2 separate regions of the Homo sapiens genome follow, and region 2 is linked to region 1. Evidence: fine-mapped expression QTL. A gene starts in region 1. The other region holds a variant in brackets. All regions are shown on one strand. Distances are from middle to middle. Region 1 holds the start of NAPA (NSF attachment protein alpha). Region 2 overlaps ZNF541 (zinc finger protein 541).

Region 1 (5,368 bases):
TAACTAAACTTCATAGTTTATTTAGATTTCCTTAGTGTTTTTGTTTGTTTTGAGATGGAGTCTCACTCTGTCACCCAGGCTGTAGCACAGTGGCACAATCTCGGCTCACCACAACCTCCACCTCCTGGGTTCAAGCAATTCTGCTTCAGCTTCCTGAGTAGCTGGGACTATAGGCGCCCTCCACCAGGCCCAGCTAATGTTTGTATTTTTAGTAGAGACAGTGTTTCTCCATGTTAGCCAGGCTGGTCTGGAACTCCTGACCTCAGGTGATCCACCCGCCTCAGCCTCTCAAAGTGGTGGGATTACAGGTATGAGCCACCGCACCCGGCCAATTTCCTTGGTTTTTTAACTCAATGCCCTTCTGTTCCAGGATCCCACCGAAGGTAAGACATTACATTTAGCAGTCACGTCTCCTTGGCTGTGATGGTTTCTCAGGCTTTCCTTGTTTTGATGACTTGACAGTGTTATTTGTTTGAGACGGAGTCTCCCTCTTGTCCCCCAGGCTGGAGTGCAGTGAGGCAATCTCCGCTCACTGCAACCTCCACCTCCAGGGTACAAGTGATCCTCCTGCCTCAGCCTCCCAAGTAGCTGTGATTACAGGCATGCACCACCTCACCGGGCTAAGTTTTTTGTATTTTCAGTAGCGACGGGGTTTCCCCATGTTGGACAGGCTGGTCTCAAACTCCTGGCCTCAAGTGATCCTCCTGCCTTGGCCTCCCAAAGTACCAGGACTACAGATGTGACACACTGCACCCACCAACAGTGTTGAGGAGTACTGGGCAAGTATTTTGGAGGATGTGGCTCAACTGGAATTTGTCTAGTGTTTTTTTCATGATTAGATTGAAAGATCCCAGAAGTAAAGAGCCATTTTAATCACATGACTTATCAATGTTGAGGTTAACCTCAATCACCTAGATGTCAATGTCAGGTTTCTCCACTGTAAATTTAGGCTTTTTCTCCCCTTTCTTGTACCCTCTTCTTTGAAAGGAAGTCACTATGCACAGTCCATACTTACAGAATGGGGAGGTATCCTTCACCTTCTTGAGAGCAGAGTATCTACGCAGATTATTTGGAATTCTTCTGCACAAACTATTTGTCTATTCTCCCCCCTTTATTTATTTGTTCTATATTCATCTATATGACCATAGGCTCATGGATACTTTATGTTTGGGATTATAATCCAATACTACTTTATTTTGATGCTCAAATTGTTCCAGCTTTGGCCATTGGGAGTTCTTTCAGTTGGCTCCTTTGGCATACCCCCTAATTTTGTGTGTGAGCACACGTGTGGAATACTTCCTTCCTTTCTGGCACTACAAAGTTATACTGAGGTGAGCTATGATTGTGCTGCTGCACTCCAGCCTGGGCGACAGACCGAGACCCTGTCTCCAAAACCAACAACCCAAAGAGTGAGACCCTGTCTCAGAAACCAGCAACTCAATTTTCTGGGACAGCAGGAGGTGTGTTTGAGCCTAAACTTTTTTTTTTAGAGACAGAGTCTTGCTATGTTGCCCAAGGCGGGACTTGAACTAGACTCAAACTCCTGGGCCCAAGCGATCCTCTCGCCTCCCGAGTAGCTGGGATTATAGGCACGAGACACCGCGCCCATCTTCGAATCTGAATTTTTTTTTAACACGCTCTCTTCAGCTATTTTTTTTTTTTTTCTGAGACTAAGTCTCACTCTGTCGCCCAGGCTGGAGTGCAGTGGCACGATCTCGGCCCGTTGCAACCTCCACCTCCCCGGTTCAAGCGATTCTCCTCTCTCAGCCTCCTCAGTAGCTGGGATTACAGGAGTGTGCCACCACACCCGGTTAATATTTGTATTTTAGTAGAGCGGGGTTTCGCCATGTTGGCCGGGCTGGTCTCAAACTCATGACCTCAAGTGATCCGCCCGCCTCGGCCTCCCAAAGTGCTGGGATTACAGGCGTAAGCCACCGTGCCCGGCCCTCTTCAGCTATTTTTTATGAAACCAGAGTTAGAGAACCTCTTAAGTTTTTGTTTGCAGTCTCTCTTCACCGGTCTCCCCAAAGCAGTTCTAGTACTGGCCGACAGAGGGAGCAAGAAAAAGCAGAACGGTTTCCTTTTCCCACAAACGCCTTTCCAAGTGAAGAAACCGGCGAGACCAGCCGCGGGGGCGGGACTAAGTTCTGCGCAGAACTGTCAAACCCGGGCGTGGGCCCCGAGCTGTCACGTGAGTGTCTGCGGTCAGCTGACTGTGCCAGAGTTCCGCGGGGAGGGCGAGTGGGGGACCCCCCGCCCCAGCGCGAGCCGAGGGCTCCTGCTGATTGGTGGAGGAGGATCCAGCAGCAACACCGTGGGGCGGGGCCTCGGCGGGGGGTACTGCCATTGCCTTCCACAGGGTCACGTGGGAGGTGAGGTACAGAGCGCTGGGGAGAGAGTGGAGCGCCGTTCGCCGGTATGTGCGCATGCGTTGAGGTCTCTTGACGCCGATTGGGGGGTCACGAGTCACGGGCGGCGTGCGGCGGCTGGTGGGGGCGTGTCCGGCGGAGCGGGCGCGGCGTTACGAGGCCGCTGGTTGGCCAGCGCTAGTCACGTGGTTCCTGGCCGCAAGCGACGCGCGCCGGTGCGACGTCAACGCAGCCGGGCGAGTTTTACCGATCTGTGTTCCGCGGCCCGGCCGCGGCTGAGTCTTCCCAGGGTCAGGGTCAGGCGCTTTGCTGAGTCCCTTTGTGGCCGCCATGGACAATTCCGGGAAGGAAGCGGAGGCGATGGCGCTGTTGGCCGAGGCGGAGCGCAAAGTGAAGAACTCGCAGTCCTTCTTCTCTGGCCTCTTTGGGTGAGAACCGGGCTGAGGGGTCGGCCGGGACCTAGGCTGAGAGGACGAAGGAGTCACGCTCGGAGGTGGCGGGTTAGGGCACGCAGAGCTCGGGCCGAGGGGACGGAGAGGAACCTGCAATAAGGTGACATGGCCTGAGGCGGCAGAGGGGACGCAGGCTGAGGGCCAAGAGCCTGGGCCGGGGCAACACGGTTTGAGGAGAGACGGTCTGACATGGCGGAAGGGATTTGGGCTGAGGACACACGGACCGAGGCGACACTATCTTGAGGCGAGGAAGGGGACCCAGGCCGAAGACAGGCCAGCGGGCGGGGGAGAACCTGGACCGAGGGAGTACGTCCTGAAGCCTTGGAGGGGACCGGCCTGGGGGGACGGAGGGAGTCCGGGAGAGAAGCCAGGTCCAGAGGCTTTTCGGAGCTCTAGGGGAGTCTGTTTGAAGGCTCTCAGGCGGCAGTGATGGGGCCTGGGGCTGAGGACGCCTGCCCGAGGGACTGACCTTTTCAACCCCTGGAGCAGTGGATTTGCGTGGGCCCTGGGCGGTGAGGGTGAAGGCTGAAGGGGGCTGACACCAGGCAGAGGGGCTCAGGGCTAGATGATCCTAGGAGCGGTGAGCCGCGTCTGAAGTGTGGGGGGTGCATGGGGTGAGTACGGCCCTGGTTAGCAGTGACTAGTTTAAGGACAGCTGAACGGAGGAACCCGGGATGATGGAGTCAAGACTGTGGAGGTCTCAGCACTTTGGGAGGCCGAGGTGGGCAGATTATCTGAGGCGGGGAGTTCGAGACCAGCCTGGACAACATGGTGAAACCCCGTCTCTACTAAAAATACAAAAGTTATCTGGGCCTGGTGGCGGGTACCTGTAATCCCAGCTACTCGGGAGGCTGGGGCAGGAGAATCACTTGAACCCGGAGGTAGAGGTTGCAGTGAGCCGAGATCGAGCCACTGCACTACAGCCTGGGGGACAGAGCGAGACTCTGTCTCAAAAAAAAAAAAAAAAAAAAAGAAAGAAAGAAAGAAAAAAGCCTGAGGAGGCCTGGGTTGAGGCTGGAGACTCCTGGGTGGGGGAATGCGTGGTGGTGGCTTGGCCAAGGAGATGGAGGGATAACAGGGAGAGACAGGGGGACTGAGAGAACCAAAACGGGGGATCAAATTCCTGCTGTGTGATCCTCGAGTAATAGGGATGACAGAGACATGCTGAGAAGAGGGATGGGAAAAGGCCTGGGAGACAGAACTAACACATATGACGTGGCATAAAACTCACGTTAGCTCCTAAAAGCTGACACGACCATCCTGTGATAAATTGTAGTGGCTTAGAAGTGCCAAGAGCCCAAGTAGCTCTGCCACTTACTTCATGACTTTGGGTAAATTGTTTAGTCTCCCTGCTAAAGGAGATCACAAATCAAACCTACCTCCCATTTGCTATGAGTGTTAGAATTGAGCCTGGCGTGGAGTTACATCTCTGAGAGTGTTAGCTGTTGTTAATGTGACTTCCAGAAGGAAACAGGTTCGGAGCGTGCAGAGAGCTGATGGGGGTTCAAGGTGGACGCCCGAGCGGAGAGGTCTGGGAGGGGTCAGGAGAGGGAGAGACTGAGAAACATGAGTGTGCTAAGAGGAGCTGAAAGGGAACAGAAAAGGGATCCACGAAGACTTAGTAGGGTTGAGAGGAGCATGAGGCTCTGGGCAGAGGAAGGAGAAGGGAGTTTGGCAGGGGGCGGTGGTGTGGGAGGTGGTGGGATCTGTGCTGATGGGACGACCCGAAAGGGTCAAGGGGAGGTTGTGGAAACTGAGAGGAGACCTGGGAAAGGACTAGTGGGCTTGTAGAGAGAACAGTGTGTGGTGGCCACTCAGAAGCAGAGCCTGGGGACGGTGGTGGGACTGGGAACATCTGCAGAAGGCTGGAGAAGGGGGTTTGGGAGGAGGGCCTGGGGATGGGAAGAGACTGTGGTAGGAGCCTGGCAGAGGCTGGTAAGACACGAAGGAGAGGGATCTTTACAAGAGAGGAAGGAACAGGAAAAGGGCTCTAGGCCACGCCCCTTGTTTGAGGTTGGATAATGTTTAGCAAAATAACTTGAAGAACATGATGGCGAATTGCCTGGTGTGGAGAAACATCCGGGGCTGATGGACTGGATTGATTAGGTGAAAAATGTTTTATTTTAGAGGCTGCGAGGAGAGAGAGGGTGTGTGTGTGTTTCTTTTTCTTCACAAGGGGAGAAGTTCAAGTGCTGTGTTTGGGGGTGGGGCCACGAGCTGGGTTTTTGGTGATAGTTTTCCTGGGTGGCTCTGGGTGTCTGGTCCCTTTGGCCCAGGGATTAGTGGGCTGTTGGACTGTGTGCTTGGAGGGAGCAGCTAAGTCAGCCCCAAGGCATTTGCTACCTGATTGGGAAGGCAGGATGAACAGCAAACACCAATAAAGTGGAATTACCTACTGTAAGGAGGGGCTCGATGATGTCATTCCTGTGACTGTCTGAGCTCAGAGGAAGCAGCGTGAACCAGGGGGAGGCTCTTGGTGAGGAGTGAGCTGGGCCCCAAGGAATCCCAGGACTTGCTGGGGAGTGGGGCCGGGGAGGGTGCTCTAGG
Region 2 (5,368 bases), 30 kb before region 1:
CGTGACTCGGCCTCCCCAAAGTGCTGGGATTACAGGTGTGAGCCACCGCTTAATGTCTTGGAAATGATAAGCTTGTCTTGCCTGTGGGGGAAAGAAAGACACATGTTTTTCAAACCAGGAGACCTGCAAGTGGGAGATGAAAGTACTTAGCATTCTTATGGGGCTCCTCCCTTTCACAAGGGGCTTTGACTAATCCATCTTTCATCTTATCCTCTCACCCACACCTACCCCAGGAAAAGGAGCCAATTTGCTCATGTCACAAGTTGGTAATAGCTGGGGGTAGAACTTAGGTCTCCTGATTCCCTCTCTGTTGCTTCCCTCAGACAGAGGCTGAGGGTGAGCCTTTGGGGAAAGACTTTATGATTTAGTCCACATCGACTAGGACTGTCCAGAGCAGGGCTGTTGGGGGCCCAGAGGGTGATGTACTCCTCTGCTTATATTTATAATGTGTTAATGCAGAGGTAGGTGTGATGCAATACATATTTACATGCATTTCTGTTTGCAGAAACTATAGGCACATTTGGCTGTTTGGCTCTATAATGTTTCTATGGATTGGGCCTCTGTAAATTGGCTTCTTTGCTGTGGGGGGTTCCAGGTAGCATCTTCTTAGGGGTCTCCTACGGTAAGGCACAGATTCCTTTGTTAAAGGAAGGATCGTCCCCAAGTTAGCATCTCCTCCAGTCTATTCTGCAGAATTCTGGTTCTCAGGAATGCTAATAGGGGCTTTTTGAAAACAAAACCAAAAACAGTTCTCTGGGCAAATAAGTTTGAGAGACACTGAAAGTTAAACAGGTCTCTCTCTGTGTGGCTTTTACATTTGCTACTGTGTGCCGGCTACAGTGGCTCACGCCTGTAATCTCAGCACTTTGGGAGGCCAAGGCAGGCAGATCACTTGAGGGTCAGGAGTTCGAGACCAGCTTGGCCAACAAGGCAAAACCCCGTCTCTACTAAAAATACAAAAATTAGCTGGGCGTGGTGGCACGCACCTGTAGTCCCAGCTACTTGGAGGCTGAGGCACAAGAATCGCTTGAACCTGGGGGGCAGAGTTGCAGTGAGCCGAGATCGTGCCATTGCACTCCAGCCTGGGTGACAGAGCAAGACTCCGTCTCAAAAACAAAAAATTAATTAATTAAATTTGCTACTGTGCATCGTGAACCTCCAAGGAGTGAATGGTGTTTTTTCAAAACTTATTTATTAGCTGTGCCAAAGTCCTTGAGGAGCAACTCTGGAGGTCTTTGTGTTCCTTGGGAACCCACTCTGGGGAAATCTGATCTGGCCTCAGTGGATTTTTTTTTTTGTATTTTTTAAAATTTTATTTATTTGTTTGTTTGTTTATTGAGATAGAGTCTCACTCTGTCACCCAGGCTGGAGTGCAGTGGTGTGATCTCGGCTCACTGCAATGCACTTCATCTCCTGGGTACAAGTGATTCTCTTGCCTCAGCTTCCCCAGTAGCTGGGATTACTGGCATGTGCCACTACACCCAGCTAAATTTTTTGTATTTTTAGTAGAGACGGGTTTTACCATGTTGGCCAGGCTGGTCTCAAACTCCTGACCTCAAGTGATCCACTCACCTCGGCCTCCCAAAGTGCTGGGATTACAGGCATGAGCCACTGTGCCCCGCTGGTTTTTTTTTTTTTTTTTACTTTTCTGTAAGGGGTTTGCTTAAAGGTGAGGGGAGAGGAACTCCCCTGCCAGATGGCTTTGACCGAAGCAGGGTTTGCTGGGTGGTCTTTCCTCGTGGGGGCTGAGTACAATTTCTGAATTGTGGTGCAACTGTACCACAGACTTTTGGGGGCCACCAGGGTCCTACAGCAGAAAGCCCGGTCCCAGGTGCCCCGGTGACGCCCCTGCTTGTGTCTGGCTCCAGGACCGGGCACATGCTCACCCACCAGAAGACAAAGCCCTTCGTGTGCATCGAGCAGGGCTGCAGCAAGAGCTACTGCGACTACCGCTCTCTGCGCCGGCACTACGAGGTCCATCACGGCCTGTGCATCCTGAAGGAAGCCCCCCCGGAGGAAGAGGCCTGCGGGGACTCCCCCCACGCCCACGAGTCGGCCGGCCAGCCGCCCCCCAGCAGCCTGCGGTCCCTGGTGCCCCCAGAGGCCAGGTCCCCCGGCTCCCTCCTGCCCCACCGGGACCTCCTGCGCCGCATCGTGAGTAGCATCGTCCACCAGAAGACCCCTTCTCCTGGCCCAGCCCCGGCGGGGGCTTCAGACAGCGAAGGGAGGAACACTGCCTGTCCCTGCCCCGCCTCATCGGGGTCCTCGTCCTGCACCCCAGCCGGCCCCCACGCGGCCCCAGCAGCGCTGGACACCGAGCTTCCCGAGGAGCCTTGCCTCCCACAGAAAGAGCCGGCCACTGACGTGTTCACAGCCCCTAATTCCAGGGCCGCCGAGAACGGCGCCCCCGACCCGCCAGAGCCGGAGCCAGATACCGCGCTGCTCCAGGCCCGGTCCACCGCGGAGTGCTGGCCCGAAGGCGGCTCCGTGCCTGCCTGCCTGCCTCTCTTCCGAGGCCAGACGGTCCCTGCCAGTTCCCAGCCATCGAGCCACAGCTTCCAGTGGCTCCGGAACCTGCCGGGCTGTCCCA[A/G]AAGCAAAGGCAACAACGTGTTTGTTGTCCACAAGCCCTCGGCCGTGCCCTCGCGGGAGGGCTCCGAGTCTGGCCCGGGACCCAGCAGCGGAAGCCCCTCGGAGGAGTCCCCGCCCGGCCCCGGCGGTGGCCTGGAGGATGCTCTGCCCTTCCCTGCCGCGCTCCTCAGGGTCCCCGCGGAGGCCCCGAGCGACCCCAGGTCGGCCAGCGGGGAAGATGACCCCTGCGCCCCCAAGAAGGTCAAGGTCGACTGCGACTCCTTCCTGTGCCAGAACCCCGGGGAGCCCGGCCTCCAGGAGGCCCAGAAGGCAGGCGGGCTCCCTGCGGATGCCTCGCCGCTCTTCCGCCAGCTCTTCCTCAAGTCGCAGGAACCTCTTGTGAGCCACGAGCAGATGCAGGTGTTCCAGATGATCACCAAGTCCCAGCGGATCTTCTCCCATGCCCAGGTGGCAGCAGTCTCCTCCCAGCTCCCTGCGCCCGAGGGCAAACCAGCCGCCCTGAGGCCGCTGCAGGGGCCGTGGCCGCAGCAGCCCCCACCACTGGCTCCTGCTGTGGACTCTCTCCACGCCGGCCCTGGAAACCCCGAGGCAGAGGGCTCCCCAGCCCGCAGGAGAAAAACCACACCCGGGGTTCCCAGAGAGGCCTCCCCCGGCAGCACGAGACGAGACGCAAAGGGGGGACTGAAAGTGGCCGCGGTTCCAACGCCCCTTGCAGCACCGTCTCTGGACCCTTCCAGGAATCCAGACATCTCTTCTCTGGCCAAGCAGCTGCGATCCTCTAAAGGGACCTTGGACCTGGAGGACATCTTCCCCTCCACAGGCCAACGGCAGACCCAGTTAGGTGGGGAGGAGCCACCAGGAGCCTCGCTGCCAGGGAAGCAGGCCCCAGCCGAGAATGGCGCGGCTTCAAGGATCACAAAAGGTGAAAAGGGCCCAGCCTGCTCCCGGGGTGGAGGCTACCGGCTCTTGGGCAACCCCAGGGCCCCGCGATTCTCCGGCTTCCGGAAAGAGAAGGCGAAGATGGATATGTGCTGTGCGGCTTCTCCGAGCCAGGTAGCCATGGCCTCCTTCTCATCGGCCGGGCCCCCGGCAGATCCCTCCAAGTCCAAGCTGACAATATTCAGCAGAATCCAGGTACCAGCTCTCTCTCACGTGGCCTGACCAGAGTGGAGTGAGTTTCCTTTGCATTTGTTAGTTGTCCAGGCATTTTATTTCATTTCAGAGAGTCCCCAGATGCAATTTTACAGAGGAAGGAATTAAGGTTCCGAAAGATTGTGGTTTTCCCCACTAAAAAAAAAAAGACCAGAATGAGGCCAGGTGAGGTGGCTTATGCCTGTAATCCCAGCCCTTTGGGATGGGAGGCTGAAGTGGGGAGACTGCTTGAGCTCAGGAGTTCGAGATCAGCCTAGGCAACATGGCGAAACCCAGTCTCTACCAAAATTTTAAAAAAGTAGCTGGGCGTGGTGGCACACGCCTGTGGTCCCAGCTACTCGAGAGGCTGAGGTGGGGGAGAATCGCTTGAACCTGGAAGATGGAGGTTTCAGTGAGCTGAGATTGTGTCTCTGCACTCCAGCCTGGGCAACAGAGCAAGACCCTGTCTTAAAAAAAAAAAAAAAGATCAACATGAGGATATCCCAGAGTTGTTCAAAACACTGTTATCTCACAAAGCCTTTTTTGCTTTTTTTTTTCTCTTGTTTCCCTTTGGATTTGCCTTTTTAGAATCTTCAGAGGATATGAAGGTAGATGCTCTCTTTCCTTTAAAGATTCCTGCTTGAAATGGCCATGTGTTTTCTGATTGTGAGTCTTGGTTTCCACAAGCACAAGTGGGCACCTGCATCGTGCCCCACACTTAAGCACATTGATAATTATTCACTGGTTCCTCCAGATGTTGTGTTTGGAGGGCCTGGTCCAAAGAGCTCATCCAGGTCTCCTGACTCCATGTCCAACCTGGGCAACATGGCGAAACCCTGTCTCTACCAAAATTTAAAAAAAATTAGTTGGGCATGGTGGTGCACGCCTGTGGTCCCAGCTACTCAGGAGGATGAGTAGCTTCCCATCATACCACAGCTACCTCATTTTTGTTTTGTTAACATCTTTATTATTCAGGTGCCAAATAATGCACCATTTTATTTTTTATATATTTTTTAGAGATGGAGGGGGTCTCGCTATGTTGCCCAGCCTGGTCTTGAACCCCTGGGCTCAAGCAATCCTCTCATCTCGGCCTCCTAAAGTGTTGGGATTACAGGCATGAGCCACCATGCCCAGCCAAATCCACCACTTTATTTTATTTTTTAAATTTATTTTATTTATTTATTTATGATGGAGTCTCACTCTGTCGCCCAGGCTGGAATGCAGTGGTGCTATCTCAGCTCATTGCAACCTCCGCCTCCTGGGTTCAAGCAGTTCTCTGCCTCAGCCTCCGAGTAGCTGGGATTACAGGCATGCGCCACCACATCTGGCTAATTTTTGTGTGTTTAGTAGAGACGAGGTTTCACCATCTTGGCCAGGCTGGTCTTGAACTCCTGACCTCGTGATCCACCCGCCTCAGCCTCCCAAAGTGCTGAGATTGCAGGTGTGAGCCACTGTGCCTGGCCAAATTTATTTTTGAGACGGAGTCTCTCACTCTGTTGCCCAGGCTGGAGTATAGTGGTGCAATCTTGGCTTACTGCAGCCTCTGCCTCCCAAGTTCAAGCAATTCTCCTGCCTGGGCCTTCCAAGTAGCTGGGATTACAGGCACACATCACCATGCCCAGCTAATTTTTGTATTTTTAGTAGAGCC

Evidence for each region. PIP is the estimated chance that this variant, and not a neighbour inherited with it, causes the effect. A credible set is the group of variants that fine-mapping cannot tell apart.
Region 2: its variant is the best candidate, but not a certain one, in a credible set for the expression of NAPA in whole blood (INTERVAL, PIP 0.52).

Annotation. Positions count from the first base shown.
Region 1 is chr19:47,512,272-47,517,639 of GRCh38, reverse strand. NAPA (NSF attachment protein alpha) reads left to right here and starts at 2,577. Exons shown (of 11, transcript NM_003827.4): 1 at 2,577-2,797. The coding sequence starts at 2,700. RefSeq lists an enhancer at 1,929-2,198 and a silencer at 2,289-2,628.
Region 2 is chr19:47,542,481-47,547,848 of GRCh38, reverse strand. It overlaps ZNF541 (zinc finger protein 541), which reads left to right. Exons shown (of 17, transcript NM_001277075.3): 5 at 1,869-3,723. Among named protein-coding and RNA genes, the nearest start is that of ZNF541, 28 kb to the left of the region's middle. The variant A/G (reference allele first, on the strand shown) is at 2,591.